Linked DNA regions of Homo sapiens. The protein of the gene in region 1 purifies or fractionates together with the protein of each later gene. This does not show direct contact. Each region holds a gene or a part of one and is shown in the gene's direction. Other genes may lie near its edges.

The links.
Region 2: the proteins of LLCFC1 (region 1) and IDUA purify together in Homo sapiens (affinity purification with mass spectrometry; one large-scale study listed by BioGRID and IntAct). This does not show direct contact.
Region 3: the proteins of LLCFC1 (region 1) and MGAT5 purify together in Homo sapiens (affinity purification with mass spectrometry; one large-scale study listed by BioGRID and IntAct). This does not show direct contact.
Region 4: the proteins of LLCFC1 (region 1) and FSTL1 purify together in Homo sapiens (affinity purification with mass spectrometry; one large-scale study listed by BioGRID and IntAct). This does not show direct contact.

The regions. Positions count from the first base shown.
Region 1 is NC_000007.14:142,937,291-142,942,278, forward strand, and holds LLCFC1 (sperm-egg fusion protein LLCFC1 precursor), read left to right. Parts: upstream 1-2,193; 5' UTR 2,194-2,331; coding exon 2,332-2,464; intron 2,465-3,061; coding exon 3,062-3,297; 3' UTR 3,298-3,578; downstream 3,579-4,988. Other genes in the region: KEL (kell blood group glycoprotein), read right to left, coding at 3,962-4,123. UniProt on the Homo sapiens protein: Sperm protein required for fusion of sperm with the egg membrane during fertilization.
Region 2 is NC_000004.12:1,000,544-1,004,043, forward strand, and holds part of IDUA (alpha-L-iduronidase isoform a precursor), read left to right. Parts: intron 1-68; coding exon 69-154; intron 155-338; coding exon 339-446; intron 447-924; coding exon 925-1,020; intron 1,021-1,135; coding exon 1,136-1,338; intron 1,339-1,438; coding exon 1,439-1,618; intron 1,619-1,725; coding exon 1,726-1,942; intron 1,943-2,188; coding exon 2,189-2,401; intron 2,402-2,492; coding exon 2,493-2,614; coding exon of another isoform or gene 2,615-2,801; coding exon 2,802-2,927; intron 2,928-3,005; coding exon 3,006-3,082; exon of another isoform or gene 3,083-3,086; intron 3,087-3,468; coding exon 3,469-3,500.
Region 3 is NC_000002.12:134,260,572-134,264,071, forward strand, and holds part of MGAT5 (alpha-1,6-mannosylglycoprotein 6-beta-N-acetylglucosaminyltransferase A), read left to right. Parts: intron 1-3,500. UniProt on the Homo sapiens protein: Catalyzes the addition of N-acetylglucosamine (GlcNAc) in beta 1-6 linkage to the alpha-linked mannose of biantennary N-linked oligosaccharides.
Region 4 is NC_000003.12:120,402,493-120,405,992, reverse strand, and holds part of FSTL1 (follistatin-related protein 1 precursor), read left to right. Parts: intron 1-1,021; coding exon 1,022-1,140; intron 1,141-2,638; coding exon 2,639-2,751; intron 2,752-3,074; coding exon 3,075-3,185; intron 3,186-3,500.

The DNA.
Region 1 (4,988 bases):
GTAGGGAGTTCGAGACCTTCCTGACCAACAGAAAGAAACCCTTTCTCTATTAAAAATACAAAATTAGCTGGGTGTGGTGGCACATGCCTGTAATTCCAGCTACTCGGGAGGCTGAGACAGGAGAATCACTTGAACCCAGGAGGTGGAGGTTGTAGGTGAGCTGAGATCGTGCCATTGCCCTCCCGTCTGGGCAACAAGAGTGAGACTCCATCTCAAAAAAAAAAAAGTGATTATCACTGGATGGTGGAATTATTAGCCTTTTTGGGGTTTTGTATTTTTCTATATTTTCTACTTTGTAATAAGAAAAAATATTTAAGGGATTCCCTGTTTTCTGCAAGAATTTATCTCTTTTAACACTGCGGAGGTCAGGCGGGTGGTGGTGGCAAGGAAATGGAAGTAATGGAAACAACTCAGTTATTTCCACTCAAGCCTGCCCGGGAGGCAATTCTCACCCCAGCCGCCCTCCCCATTCATTCCCACAGAGCTGGAGATGGCTTCTCTTTTTGCCAGGAAACCAAGAGGCTGCTCCCCCAAAATAGCCAGGAGGGAGGAGATTAGTGATGGTTTTTTCCATTCAAGCATCATTCTTTGGATCTCACGTCAATGGGTTCAAGGTGGGGTGAGCAGGGTCACCTGCCTACTTGAATCTTTCCTTACTCACCTTCAAGCGACCTCCGTACCACTCCCTAGTCCCTTGTCATCTGGCTTGGACCATCAGGAAGTGTGTAAGAGATGGTGTCTGCTGTATGTGAGACAGCATCCATGTGGGCATGTCTGCTAACACGAGTAAACTCTGTGGGAAAGCATCTCTTTGTGTGTTTCTGTCTGCAGTTCCCTCTTGCAGAAAGGGTGCCTGTCTCCGCAGTGTCCTTGGACCTGCATGTGGTATTTCATTCAGGTCTGGTATGCATGGATGAGCAGGAGCAGTGTGAACTGGTTATGAGAGTTCAGGAGTGACTAAAGTCTTCTCTTACCTGTCTTAGCAGCCATCCTGCATCTAATGGCCTATGTCTCTGTTGCTGGTTTTCGAAAAAAGGCCTTCATTCTGTCTCCCTAACTCACAACCCTCCAACCATCTCTGCCCAAGAAGCAGTTGGGGGTGATTACCCACAGCCGGTTACTGCCAACAGATCTGTGCTCACCAGGCTCATGGGCAGGAGGCGCATCCAAGTACTGAGGCAGGATTCTCCCAGATCTGTTATTTGGGATCCTAGACTCCCTGCCGCACTGCGGCTTCTCTGCAGACTCTAACTCCTTTTGCCAAGCAATGAGGTTGGAGATGAGCCTCTAACAACCTTTTCTTTCGTCTAAGAGTACAGAAAGGTGTAAAATGAAAGAAGAGGGTGTTTCAACCTGGTGGTACAAGAGGACAAAGGCTAGAAAAGTGGGAAAACCAGGGGAGGGTGAAGAGAGGGTGTGAATGGGCTCTACCAGCTGCAAGGCACCCTGCTCTTTGTCTCTCGCTCTCTCTCCGTTCACTCTCTCTTCATCTGTCTCTCTGTCTCTGCGTCTCTATCTCTCTGTCTCTACCCCTCAGTTTCTGCCTGTCTCGGTCTCTTTCTTTCTCTCTTTTTCTATGTCTCTGTCTGTCTCTGCCTGTCTATGCCTGTCTCTGTCTCTGTGTCTTTTATACACACACACAGCATGTGCTTTTACCCATCCTTACCCTATGCTCCTCCCCATCTTTATTTTCTGGCAGACCCATGCTTCATGTAGAGCAGCATGTTCATACCCACGACTTGAGAATCCTGTCCGGCTCATCTGTTCTGGGCCTCATCCTATGCAAACCACTCTTGTTACAGAAAGGCCACATAGAATAGTGGGAAGATATCATATTTAAAAGTAAAAGTTAATCAAGAGTCCTTTTCTGCCCCTTAGTATTTGGGCGATTTTGAGTGAGAGAGTCATTTTTTCTGTGAGCCTCAGTTTCCTCATGAATGTAATAGATATGAGAACACTATGATTTTGCAGTCCTGGTTTCTACGTGGATCTAATGGTGTAATGGATATGAATGTACATTGCAAGCTGTTAAGTCATTTCTGCTAAATACAGAATGACCCACTGTGGTCATCTTGGAAGCCTCGGCCATCCCTGCTGGCTGTGCTCCATTCTTGTGCCTCGCCATTGGAACGCTCTAGTGAGCCGGAATGAAGTTCAGGCCCATGGCTGTGATGTCACAGAACATGTGAAGTCAGAGGTCCTATGGAAGGTGAGGGGAGAAAATGCCCCTGGAAAGGGTTAAGGGCCAGGACAGGAATGGGGCAGGAGGTGCACGGATCCTGCTGGGCACTGGGAGCAGGGGGCGGCCAAAGGCAGTGGGTGGGCAGGTCCATGCCTCCCCTGGCCCCCCAGCTCTGCAGGGCAGTGTTCCTGGTTCCTATCTTGCTGCTGCTGCAGGTGAAGCCTCTGAACGGGAGCCCAGGCCCCAAAGATGGGAGCCAGACAGAGAAAACGCCCTCTGCAGGTAGGTGGAAAAAAAGACAGGAGCCATACAGAGAAAACACCCTCTTCAGGTAGGTAGAAAAAAAGACGGGAGAGTCTGGAGGCTCAGGGTGAGGTCTGTGTGAGGCCAGGCCCCAGGTCACTGATGAGGCTAGGGTGAGACCTGACATAGGTCTGGTTTATGGGGGGTAACTCCAGCCACTGATGGTTATCATGTGAAATAATAGTGTCGGCTCACCATGGGCCAGCTGAGCTTGCATGCAACTTCTGTGTGTGTAAGCATGGTGCATTTGGCTGGCTTTTGTCATGCTTCAAGGTGGCCCCTGACTCCCCCAGTGTTGAAACCCTAGAGGAGGCAGCTAACCTTAGGAATGGTGTGTGTGTGTGTGTGTGTGTGTGTGTGTGTGTGTGTGTGTGTGTGTGTGTTTGAGTTGGGGCTGTGATTGAACACAGACCAGAAAAAACCTCTAGAAAGAGCATCCCCTCTCTGGTGAAGGCTAAGGATATGGGCAATTGGGACTGCAGCCCTAGGCTTCAACGTGTTTTTCCTATTCTAACTTCTCCTTTCTGGTTCAGGCCAGGGTCAGGGCTCAGTCCTTGTCCTTTTCCCCTGTTCCAGACCAGAATCAAGAACAGTTCGAAGAGCACTTTGTGGCCTCCTCAGTGGGTGAGATGTGGCAGGTGGTGGACATGGCCCAGCAGGAAGAAGACCAGTCGTCCAAGACGGCAGCTGTTCACAAGCACTCTTTCCACCTCAGCTTCTGCTTTAGTCTGGCCAGTGTCATGGTTTTCTCAGGAGGGCCATTGAGGCGGACATTCCCAAATATCCAACTCTGCTTCATGCTCACTCACTGACCCTCCCTCCCTCCTGGGCTCCAGGTCACAACTCCCAAAGGAGATGCAGGCATGGCTCTCTGCCTCTGATCACCATCACTGTATCTCAAGGTTCAGCAGCAGAGATACCAGTTGCCATCAGTGCTAACTGACTGCCTCTCCAGGTTCGGAGTTTCATCTCCCAGGGCCAGAGACAGCAGACCCACATCCTTCTCTCCCACACCTCTCCTGGTTTTGTTCAGGACAGCAGATTAGAGGCAGGAGGCAATGACAATAAAATAACGATAAAATCCTGAGAACAATTGGGAGCAGCTTTCCGATACTTAATCCAAGCCCTTCTCGTCTCCAACTAGACTGCTTTATTGTCCAATCTTTGGTCCACTGGGTGGCCTTCAAACCCACCAGGTCACCAATTGTTGATTCTTTCCTTTTCTTGTGTCCATGAAACATTTTTGGCATTTCTCCCTCTTATCTTTTCTAACTTCAGGGTATTTTTCTCCCGTACAGTTAATGACTTCCAGGCATAGAACATAGCAGGAACAAGTCATTAAGAGACAAGCGGAAGCCAAGTGCCAGCTTTTATTTTTGGAACAGAAGCAGAAAGGAAATCTTGCTCTGATTCCATGGATGTGACCAGGGAGGTGTTGGTCGATATTTCTGTGCTGTGGCATCTTTGGTAACCAAGTTACCAGAGCTGGCAGCGGCTGGAGGGGTTCAAGAGAGCACCACGTGCACAGCGGAAATACCTGGCAAAGGCTGGGGTGCTGCTGAGGGGCCCGTGGACTCGGAGGTGTGGAGGGCTGTGAGTGTCGTGAGAGTCCTGGGGGCTGGGCTTCCTACACATCACCTGAGCAGGAAGAGAGGTCATTGAAGGGGGAGGGTCCACAGGACAAAGCTGACCCGGTGACAAGGGGTGATCAGGGACAGCAGACAAAGAGGGGAACCAGGGGATCAAGTGCCCCAAGGGCCACATGGAGCATTTGAAATGTATAGTTCATTTAATCTGGCAATAGGAGTCCAGGAGGAGGGCCTGGGCTGTGTAATGATACCATTTATCAATGACAGAGAGGCAGGGTCTAGCGCAGGAGCTCTGGGGTGAAGTCTAATCTAAGCGTGTTGAAGACCTGGCACCTGAGTCTGTTGAGGGAGTACAGGGTGCTTAAGGAGGTGATGTCAAGTGGGCGCCACACCTAAGGTCAGGTGTCTGAAGAGGAATGTGGCACACAGTCAGCCTGTCGCAGGCTTTTTTTTTTTTTTTGTGAGACTGAGTCTTGCTCTACCACCCAGCCTGGAGTGCAGTGGCATGATCTTGGCTCACTGCAACCTCCGCCTCCCAGGTTCAAGCGATTCTCGTGCCTCAGCCTCTCAAGTAGCTGGGATTACAGGCGCCCGCCACCAAGCCCAGCTAAGTTTTGTATTTTTAGTAGAGACGGGGTTTCACCATATTGGCCAGGCTGGTCTTAAACTCCTGATCTCAAGTGATCCGCCCACCTCGGCCTCCTAGAGTGCCAGGATTACAGGTGTGAGCCACTGTGCCCAACCACAGGCTCATTTTTAAGGCATCTGTATTTTGGGGGTATGAGAGGAAAAAAAAGTTGGTCTCCTCCTCTCCTGGAGGAACTTGGGAATAGAGTTTTTTCTACCTTTTGAGTTGTGGGGGTGCTGAACTAGGTAGAAGAACCTGTAGTCATCTGAGGGGTGATTCCAAGGGG
Region 2 (3,500 bases), on another chromosome or scaffold:
ACGGTTCCAGCCTGGAGCATGGAGCTGTGTGGGCACCCTGCTTCCTGACGCTGACCGTCCTTCTGCAGGGGGTCCACTGGACGGGGCCTGAGCTACAACTTCACCCACCTGGACGGGTACCTGGACCTTCTCAGGGAGAACCAGCTCCTCCCAGGTGAGCTGTGGGCTCTGCCCTCCCAGCCCGCCTGCACCCCCTTGCCCTGCCCACCCTCTCCCTCACCCAGCCCCTCTGAGTCCTTGGATGTCCATTCAGGGCTGGCCTTGGTGCCGGAGCACAGGCCTGGCAGAGCATGGGTGTGGTGTGTGGTGGGCGGTGGGGCAGCCCTCCTGTGTTCCAGGGTTTGAGCTGATGGGCAGCGCCTCGGGCCACTTCACTGACTTTGAGGACAAGCAGCAGGTGTTTGAGTGGAAGGACTTGGTCTCCAGCCTGGCCAGGAGATACATCGGTGGGCGAGCGCAGGCCCTGGGGCCCTGGCCGGGGCGGGGGTACTCCTGGGCAGGTTGCACCCCTATCACGCAGGCTGCTGCCTGGTCAGGAGATACATTGGTGGGCAGGCGCAGGCCCTTGTGGGGGGATGGGGGTGACAAGGGATAGGTTGGTGGTCGGCGCAGGCCCTGGGGCCCCAGGCTGGGGGGTACTCCTGGGCTTGGTGGGTGGGCGAAGGCCCTGGGCCCCTGGGGTGGGGGGTACTCCTGGGCAGGCTGCACCCCTATCACCCAGGCCGCACCCCTATCACCCAGGCCGCCGCCCAGGTCTTGGACCCCCTTGAGCCAGCGCTTCCTGATGTGGGGCGGGAGGCTGGCCTGCATGGAGATGGGGTTCATCTTGAGTCAGACGCCCTTCATCACCTTGCACCCTCCCTCCGTGGGAGTCACTGAGGCGAGATTCACCTGTGCTGGGGGGACAGCAAGGCTCCTCTGCAGGTAGGTACGGACTGGCGCATGTTTCCAAGTGGAACTTCGAGACGTGGAATGAGCCAGACCACCACGACTTTGACAACGTCTCCATGACCATGCAAGGTGTGCACCGCTTCCTGGGGTCCTGCCCGGCTGAAAGGGGGCAGAGGAAGGCAGGAGCAGAGGCTAAGCCGCTCATCCCCAGGGCAGGTGTAGACGCAGTGCTCCCCCGGCCCAGGCTTCCTGAACTACTACGATGCCTGCTCGGAGGGTCTGCGCGCCGCCAGCCCCGCCCTGCGGCTGGGAGGCCCCGGCGACTCCTTCCACACCCCACCGCGATCCCCGCTGAGCTGGGGCCTCCTGCGCCACTGCCACGACGGTACCAACTTCTTCACTGGGGAGGCGGGCGTGCGGCTGGACTACATCTCCCTCCACAGGAAGGTGCGCCCTGCCCCTCCGTCCGCCCCGGTGTTCTGCGCCCTCAGCCGCTGTGCCCCGGGCCGCGCTGACCCTGGTGGTGCTGAGGCGGCCCCGCCCGCAGGGTGCGCGCAGCTCCATCTCCATCCTGGAGCAGGAGAAGGTCGTCGCGCAGCAGATCCGGCAGCTCTTCCCCAAGTTCGCGGACACCCCCATTTACAACGACGAGGCGGACCCGCTGGTGGGCTGGTCCCTGCCACAGCCGTGGAGGGCGGACGTGACCTACGCGGCCATGGTGGTGAAGGTGGGCCGGCCCAACGCCCTGCGCGCCCCCCGGCCACCTTCCTCCCGAGACGGGACAGGCGAGCGGTGGCCGCGCCACCCGGTCCCAGCTGCCCTGGACACCCGCAGGTCATCGCGCAGCATCAGAACCTGCTACTGGCCAACACCACCTCCGCCTTCCCCTACGCGCTCCTGAGCAACGACAATGCCTTCCTGAGCTACCACCCGCACCCCTTCGCGCAGCGCACGCTCACCGCGCGCTTCCAGGTCAACAACACCCGCCCGCCGCACGTGCAGCTGTTGCGCAAGCCGGTGCTCACGGCCATGGGGCTGCTGGCGCTGCTGGGTGAGCCGGGGCCGCTGGGGTGGGCCGGCCAGGGCCCTCCAGGCTGGGGAGCGGCTCCTGCGAAGGCCCCGCTGCGGGGAGCGCACTTCCTCCAGCCGCGCGCTTCCCGGGGTCGGCCTCCGCGTGGCGGGGCCTGGGGACTCCTTCACCAAGGGGAGGGGGAGCGAGTGGTGGGAGGCCCGGCCCTGGGTCGGGGGGCGGCTGGGCAACGACCCCACGCGGCGACGGCCCCCCCCCGCCCCGCAGATGAGGAGCAGCTCTGGGCCGAAGTGTCGCAGGCCGGGACCGTCCTGGACAGCAACCACACGGTGGGCGTCCTGGCCAGCGCCCACCGCCCCCAGGGCCCGGCCGACGCCTGGCGCGCCGCGGTGCTGATCTACGCGAGCGACGACACCCGCGCCCACCCCAACCGCAGCGTCGCGGTGACCCTGCGGCTGCGCGGGGTGCCCCCCGGCCCGGGTAAGCCGGGGTTCCAGGGAGGTCTCTGGCCCCGCTGGGGCTCTGGAGGGGGCGGCCCGGGGAGCCGAGGCCTGAGTGTCAGGCCCCGCAGGCCTGGTCTACGTCACGCGCTACCTGGACAACGGGCTCTGCAGCCCCGACGGCGAGTGGCGGCGCCTGGGCCGGCCCGTCTTCCCCACGGCAGAGCAGTTCCGGCGCATGCGCGCGGCTGAGGTAGGTGGGCCGCGGAGGGGCGAGGGGCCGGGCCGGGCCGGGGTCCCGGGGGGGTGGGGTCCGGGGCGGGGGCTCCGAGGCGGTGTGGGTGGGAGGTGGAGCGGTGGGCCGGGGGCGTTCGCCCTGAGGTCGGGCCGAGCGTCCCCAGCTCCCCTGGAGAACCCTGAGGACCGGCCACTGCGCCCAGGACCCGGTGGCCGCGGCGCCCCGCCCCTTACCCGCCGGCGGCCGCCTGACCCTGCGCCCCGCGCTGCGGCTGCCGTCGCTTTTGCTGGTGCACGTGTGTGCGCGCCCCGAGAAGCCGCCCGGGCAGGCAAGTGGCAGTCCCCTAACCCGCGCCGCGGCCCGGACTCCCCTTCCCCGACGCCATCACAGCCCTTCCCTCCCCCAGGTCACGCGGCTCCGCGCCCTGCCCCTGACCCAAGGGCAGCTGGTTCTGGTCTGGTCGGATGAACACGTGGGCTCCAAGTGCGTGAGTGGGGCCGCCCCTCCCTCTGCCTGGTCCTAGGCAGGTCCCTGGGTCCCGACCCCTTCACCCATGCGGTCACTCGGGCCACTTGCCGTGGCCCATCGGCTCCCTCCCTCGCCGCCCTGCGTCCCTGCCCTTCACCCCACACACTGTGGGCCACGCGCCAGGCCCTGCCAGTGGGGTGTGGGTTCTCCTAGGGGACATGAGATGGACATTCGGGCTCCAGCCCTCTCCTGCCTGGGCAGGAAGAGTGCCCAGGGGCTGGGGAGGTGCCGCCGAGGGGCTTGAGGGAATGAGGCTGTGGGTCCACGCGGCCGTGCCCTGCCTGCTCCCACCTTTGAGGACTGTCTTGACCCCAGCCTTGTTCTTGGCCTGACCTCCCCAGGTGCCTGTGGACATACGAGATCCAGTTCTCTC
Region 3 (3,500 bases), on another chromosome or scaffold:
ATTTCATTAAAGATGCAAGCATGTAAAGGGTTTTTTAGTTTGTTTTGTTTTTCCACTTTTTTTTTGTGTCTCTCTTCCTACAAATAGGGAAATATGGTCAAGGAATAGGAATGGTTTCTTTTTTCTTTTTCTTTTTTTTTTTTTTTTGAGGGCTGGGACTGTTGTGGGATAATGTGGAAAACCACTGTTGCCAAAGTAGAAATCCCCTGCCCTTGAGGGAAATACACTGTTCTTGAAGTGAAAATGGTAGGGAAAAAAATAGCTGGGCTGTTCAGTGTGTCTGAGAAGGCTTTTAGTTACTGTATGGTGACGTGGCTGGTGTGATTAAAGAAAGGGCTTTCTGCTTTAAAAAGCTTGGAACCTAAAAATGGGCCTCTCTGTGGCTTGGGACTTTTCCAGCCATCCTGTGGTAGAGTCCAGCCTGCCCAGTATCCTCATCAAAGCCAGGCCAAGTTCACAAGCACGCCCAGGCCAGTCAAAAGGTCTGAGGAAGACCTCAGAAATGTTTTAGACAGGAGGAGTAAACTCAGAATAAGGGGCTCATTCTTCTACCCCTCAGTCATTAAGACCCTTTCTTTCATGCAGCACCACTACTTCAAGTCTGGATTGAGGAGGGATTGCACGCACATGTGTGAGGTTGGAGTCTCAATCTCAATGTGATTGTCATTGCCATGTTCAAACGATGAGGCTTAGAATGTCCCTTGTCTTACCTGATGGTCATAGCTCTCTATGACCCTCTGCTTCTTCCCAGCTGTGTCCTGGTGCTCTTTTGCTGTCAGAAGTGCTTGAGCAGACCTCTTGCTGCTGTGGACACCCTAAAAAGCTCCGCACCCCCTCAAGTCTACTAAGGCATGGTGGCTCTCTTCTAGGACAAGACTGTTGGGTGGTGGCTGAGCATTCGCCTGTCTTTGAGCGTCTGCATTTGCTCTCCCCCACCCCTTCCTCTCTTCCTTCTTTGTTTGTAAATAAAGTTGGTTAGAACACAGCCATGCGCATTCCATTCTGTTTCAGAGAAGTTAGCCTTCCCTCCTTCACAGGAGGGCCCAAACCCACTGTTACTCTCATTCTTTATAACACTCAAGCTACTTAGCATCAAGTATTTGTTGTATGAGCTGATCATGTGTCTCTCCCACTTACAATGTAAGTTCTGAAAGAGGAGGGACTTTGGTCTGTTTTGTTCCCCACTGTGCCCCAGAGCTTAGTACCTTTTGCCTGGCACATAGTAAGAGCCATGAATGAATAGCAGCAGCCCCTGGTGAAACTCTGTGATGCTCTGTGTGGTACAGTTACAGCTGGGACTCATTTGAAAATCACAGTAATGTTTTTAGTGAAGCAGGAAATGAGAAGAAATTCCCTATGGGCTCTGCATCTAAGAGGCTCCAAGTAGCTCTTATGCATGATCCTAACATGGGAACCATTGTTTATTCTGGAAGGTAGTTAGTGTTTCTGTTGGGCGGATGGAACACATTGTGTTCCTTACTGATGTGTGACCTTGAACAAGTCACCGATCATCTTAAAGCTTACTTCCTCTTTTGTAAAACAGACAATATAATATCATTTAACCTCATAGGCTTGTTGTAAGGATTACAAATGACAAAGTTTATTAAGGCACTTAGATTAATTTAGATTATTCTTGTTCTTTTTTTTTGGTGTTGTTTTTGTTTTATTTTGTTTTGTTTTGTTTTGGAGATAGAGTCTTGCTCTGTCACCAAGGCTGAAGTACAGTAGTGTGATCAGGCTCTAGCAACCTCCCCCTCCCAGACTCAAGCCTTATGCCCACCTCAGCCTCCAGAGTAGCTGGGACTATAGGCATGTGCCACCACACTAGGCTAATTTAAAACAAAAGTTTTTTTCTGAAGATGGAGTCTCACTGTATTGCCCAGGCTGGTCTCAAACTCCTGGCCTCAAGTGATCCTCCCATCTCAGCCTCCAGAGTAGCTGGGACTATAGGCATGTGCCACCACACTAGGCTAATTTAAAACAAAAGTTTTTTTTCTAAAGATGGAATCTCACTGTATTGCCCAGGCTGGTCTCAAACTCCTGGCCTCAAGCGATCCTCCCACCTCAGCCTTCCAAAGTGCTGGGATTACAGGTGTGAGCCACTGTGCCCAACCAGCGCTTAATTAAAATGCATTCATTCCTATTAGTAATCACTAACTCTGGCTTGAATGTACCTGCATCTGTTACCACCCAGGCATAACTGTTCATGTAGATCTGACGTTGTTCATTTGTTTGAACACAGGGCTTCAGCAACCTGTTTATGTAGCTATTCTTAGCATTTACAGGGGTAGAGCCTGACCAGACATGAGAGGAAATATGCTCTGTTTCAGAAGAGGTCAGGCTTGCCACCACCCTACTAAACTAGGAGATGTGGTTGTCATTGCCCTGTTCAAAAGATACAGTTTTCTTCTGTGGGCTGTAAGATAAGCTGGGTATGGCCAAGTTCACCTTTGGATCTAACCAGGGCATTGGTGGTGGTGGTGTTTCTGGCATGGTACAGCAAGCAGGAAGCAGTAGTGTGCGAGGCCACCCTTTCCAAGAAGGTGCGGGCCCTGGCATCAGGTGGGGGACAATGGATAACAATAGGCTTGACCTCTCAGCACTTCTCTGATTCCTTATCTTTTCTATAAAAAAGGCTAAAATTCTTGGTTCCTATTCCCTGCAGCTGGCTACATGTTAGGAAAATTCAAAGAATAGCTTAAGAACTCTATTCAGGTTCCATAAAGCACTTAATATCATCAACAGGCCTAGAAAGGATCTTTTACCAGATTTCGATGCATGGAAACTTCCTCAATAGTAATGACACCCTCTGCAACACCTTAGGAAAAACATTCGCTTCTGGGCACAAGTTCTGGTGAAAGCTTAAATCTGTAGTTCTAACCCAGAAGAGAAGGCTAGTCAGTGTTGCTGAGCATCTGAGCTGCTCTTTGACTTTGGTGATAATTGTTTTATGCCCTTTTCTGTCCAGAATCTGCTGACTGGGACAACTGCAGGGTGGAAGCCACCTTTTTGTCAGTTCAGGAGCAGGCAAATTATCTAACATGTGGCTTTAAAATTCAAATGAGATAAGGCAGTAAGGGTCACTAAGATGTTTCTGGTGGGTATTGCCTTACATGACTTTAGGGTACTGGTGGCACTATCTTTGATTCTTAAGAGTACAATTCATTGTACTATGTATATATATTTAAAATAACACTTAATGCCTTTGTGACTTTGAAAATAATGTGAATTTTTATGTAAAATTAAAGCATATGAGGAAGTATGGAGAAGAATAAAGAATAAATACACTCTTTACCTCTAAATGCAGATCTTACCAGATAAAATTGATTTCCCTTTAGTTCTTTAAAAAAAAAAAGTGATACGTACATGTGTGTATATGTGTATATATGTACATGAATATATGCTTTTTTAAAAATTAAGATACTGCATTTCCTTATGCCATTAGGTTTTTTTTTTTTTTTTTTTTTTGAGATGGAGTTTCACTCTTGTTGCCCAGGCTG
Region 4 (3,500 bases), on another chromosome or scaffold:
ACCATCTGGGGAGCCATCTTGAAAGTAACATGGGGAAGCTGATCCTTTCCCAGGGCAGCAGCATGAGGGAGCCTAGGGAAAGGATTTGGGAGGAAGGGGGAAAATGTTATTGAAATTTGTTAGGAGAGCAGCCATATGCAACTTGGAATTTGATCAGTCTTGATTTGACACCCTCCTCCTGCAGCTAGTGCCTGGGTGTCTTGAATGGTCCCAGATGGCTGAGGTCTCAGTTTAGCATCTTGCCATAGAGAACAGTGTGTGAGCTTACTGCACTCCTCACTTTGTGCTTGTGGGATGCCAGCTGGGTCATGAGGGCAGCCTGAGCTGGATGATCTGAGGACCTGTGCACACATCTGCAGTGGGGCCCACAGGGCAGAGGAGCGGGAACTTTGCATGATGACCCCTGTCTGTAGCTTATTGCTTTGAGGCCTTTGCCTGAGTTCTCACTGATGTGATCAGTTACGGGCACCAAAGTGAAAGTTAAGCACTGAGAACAGGACAAGGAGGCTGGAATCAAGCAACAAGATTTGGAATCCTATAATTCCAAAGTGAGCTCAGAGGGTCATCTGCATTGCTGCTGTTCCTGAGCAGCTCATTAGAAACATATTCTGGGACCTGCTACAGAGATTCTGATTCACAGCGTGCAACTTTAAACTCTTGTTACATGTTCATCAGGGCTTGAGAACATGATGTGCAGGTTGGTCTGAACCCAAAGGTATAGTCAAAAGTGTCTACAGGGCAGTGTCAGAGATGGGGCCACACAGCATGCTTAGGGACCCCAGAGGCCTCAGTTCAGGTTGCCTCCTCTGCCCAGGCACTTTTCCTCTCTCATTGTGGGCACAGGTACCTTCTCTGCATGTCCCAGGGATTAGAGCATTTGTTGCCAAGGCCCTCTGAGGTCAGGGCAGGGTTGGAATGTATCAAGAACAAGATGAATCAGAGGCAGGTCAGCTGAGTGGAGTAATGATGGAACAGGGGTTCTGCAAAACATCCCTGAACGATCTTGTCATGCCCTTTCTAGAACTTTGATAATGGTGATTCTCGCCTGGACTCCAGTGAATTCCTGAAGTTTGTGGAACAGAATGAAACTGCCATCAATATTACAACGTATCCAGACCAGGAGAACAACAAGTTGCTTAGGTGAGAGGAACCGAGAGGTCAGAGAATGATCCACAAGGGAAGACTAACTGAGAGAGGGGACTTAAACCCTTTCCCACCTGCAAAAGAGCCACCAGTGAGAGAATGTCACGTAAAAAGCAAAATGGGAATTCTGTCCTGTTCTATTCTATGAAAGTATGAATTAATATATTGAGTACCACTGATATCTAATCAAATAGTTATTGTTTTTGGTCAGAACTTGCAAGGACTAGAAGAATATAATTTTAAAATAAATTGCCAAGGGCACGTCAGAGCAAGTTATTTCTGAATGTTGTGGGTGATGTTTTACTGATTAATTTTCTGAAGGAATTACAGTAATGTATTATTTAACTATAGGTCTAAAATAGCTTTGTTCTGATTTTTAGATAATTAGTGCTATTTCATGTCAATTGCCCTAACTGTTACAGATATATGCCCGTCTACTTTTATGGCATTATTCCAGAATCAATATTAATAAAAACTAATCGCTAAGAAACTTTTGATGTGGTTTCAGCACATCGGTAAGAATTAAAAATAGGAAAAGCATGTCTTTTTTTCAAAAGAAGTGCATTGCACAGTTTCTAGAAGGATTCTTCTTTAATAATAGTCTATGACCTTAAAGTATAGGTTCTGTAAATCCTTCATATTTTGATAATCTGAAATTATATGTTTTATAATTTCAACGTTTGAGCCTCATGATATCCCAGTGAAGGAGGGCTTCTTGTCCTCCTTTTACGGATGGGAAGACAGGCTCAGAAAAGTTGAATAACTAACTCAAGTCCATTTGAGTAGTAAGTGATTGAGCCAGGGCTCAAATACAGCCCAAGAAAGAAGTGATGGAGCTGAGTTTTTTTTTGTTTGTTTTGTTTTTTGTTTTTTTTTGTTTTTGTTTTTGTTTTGTTTTGTTTTTGTTTTTTTTTTTTTTTTTTTTTTTTGAGACGGAGTCTCGCTCTGTCGCCCAGGCTGGAGTGCAGTGGCGGGATCTCGGCTCACTGCAAGCTGATGGAGCTGAGTTCTAAAAGCTTTTCTGAAAATCTCTTTCTAGAAGGATGATAATGGTGATTCTTGCTTGAACTTCATATTCTTTCAAATCCTATATTCCTTTCATGTCATCTGTCATATCTCTTCTGTTTTGATTTTCCTAGTTTGGTTGACTTGACGTGTATATACCATGGGGAAAAGCAATTGCTAGTGGAAGGTATGCAGGCAGTGAAAACATTAGACAAAACCATTCACGAAACTTTAGTCATCTTAAGGGGGGGAACATTTGGACAGCCTGGGTGATCTGACATTCATATAACAAACTAAAGGTTAGATGCCTGCATTGGTCAGGATGGATAATAGTTGTGTTGGGTCAGTGTAGAGAGAGGCTGTTTTAGTTAGCAGTCATCTTCTTGGCCTCCTGTGGAGGCCCTGGGTGTATGTGGTCCTGATGCTTACTTCCTTTCTTCTGAGCGAAGCTGAGGTCTTGCTAACACATTTCTCCTGTGTTTTGTTTCAGGGGACTCTGTGTTGATGCTCTCATTGAACTGTCTGATGAAAATGCTGATTGGAAACTCAGCTTCCAAGAGTTTCTCAAGTGCCTCAACCCATCTTTCAACCCTCCTGAGAAGAGTATGCCTAACCTAAGAAATAGAGAGCTGTAGTGAATGGAGGCATTTTGTAGGAGCCAAGATAGAGAGGATTGGTGGAACTCTCCAGAGCTAGCTGAGAAAATCCCCTTCCATGATTCTAAACTGGGCCCCAGCCCATTCTCCCCATGGTGAAGTTAGGGCCCCACATTCTTTAGGTTGATGGTAGTGTTTGCTCAGATATAGTGCTTCTGAGGGACAGGCAGGTCTTGTCTGGGAAAAAAGGGTAAGGTGCACAGACTGTAGCAAAGATGCCCTGTTCCACCCTCACAGCTAAACTGTTGCCCCGTATTTCTGGCCCAACAGAGTGTGCCCTGGAGGATGAAACGTATGCAGATGGAGCTGAGACCGAGGTGGACTGTAACCGCTGTGTCTGTGCCTGTGGAAATTGGGTCTGTACAGCCATGACCTGTGACGGTGAGCTGTGCTTCAAGCAGAAAGAAAAAACAGCAAGGAGAGAGCTTCATGAAATCAGCATGAGAGAAGTTGGGGTGGGGATGATGGAGAAGAGGGCGGTGGCTGGGAGCAAGGAACCCAGGCAGACCCACACCTGTAAGGTTGGAGCCCCAAGTGGGGAGCTTTGAGGGCAGAACATTTATCCCATAGGCATTCAGTTTGAAAATCACTCCAGAGGCTTGGAATAAGAGAGGACCAAGACCCTGGGCAAAAGTAAATGATAATGGAATAGTAACATTATGGAAATAGTAACAGTGAAAGTAGTAATAATGGAAT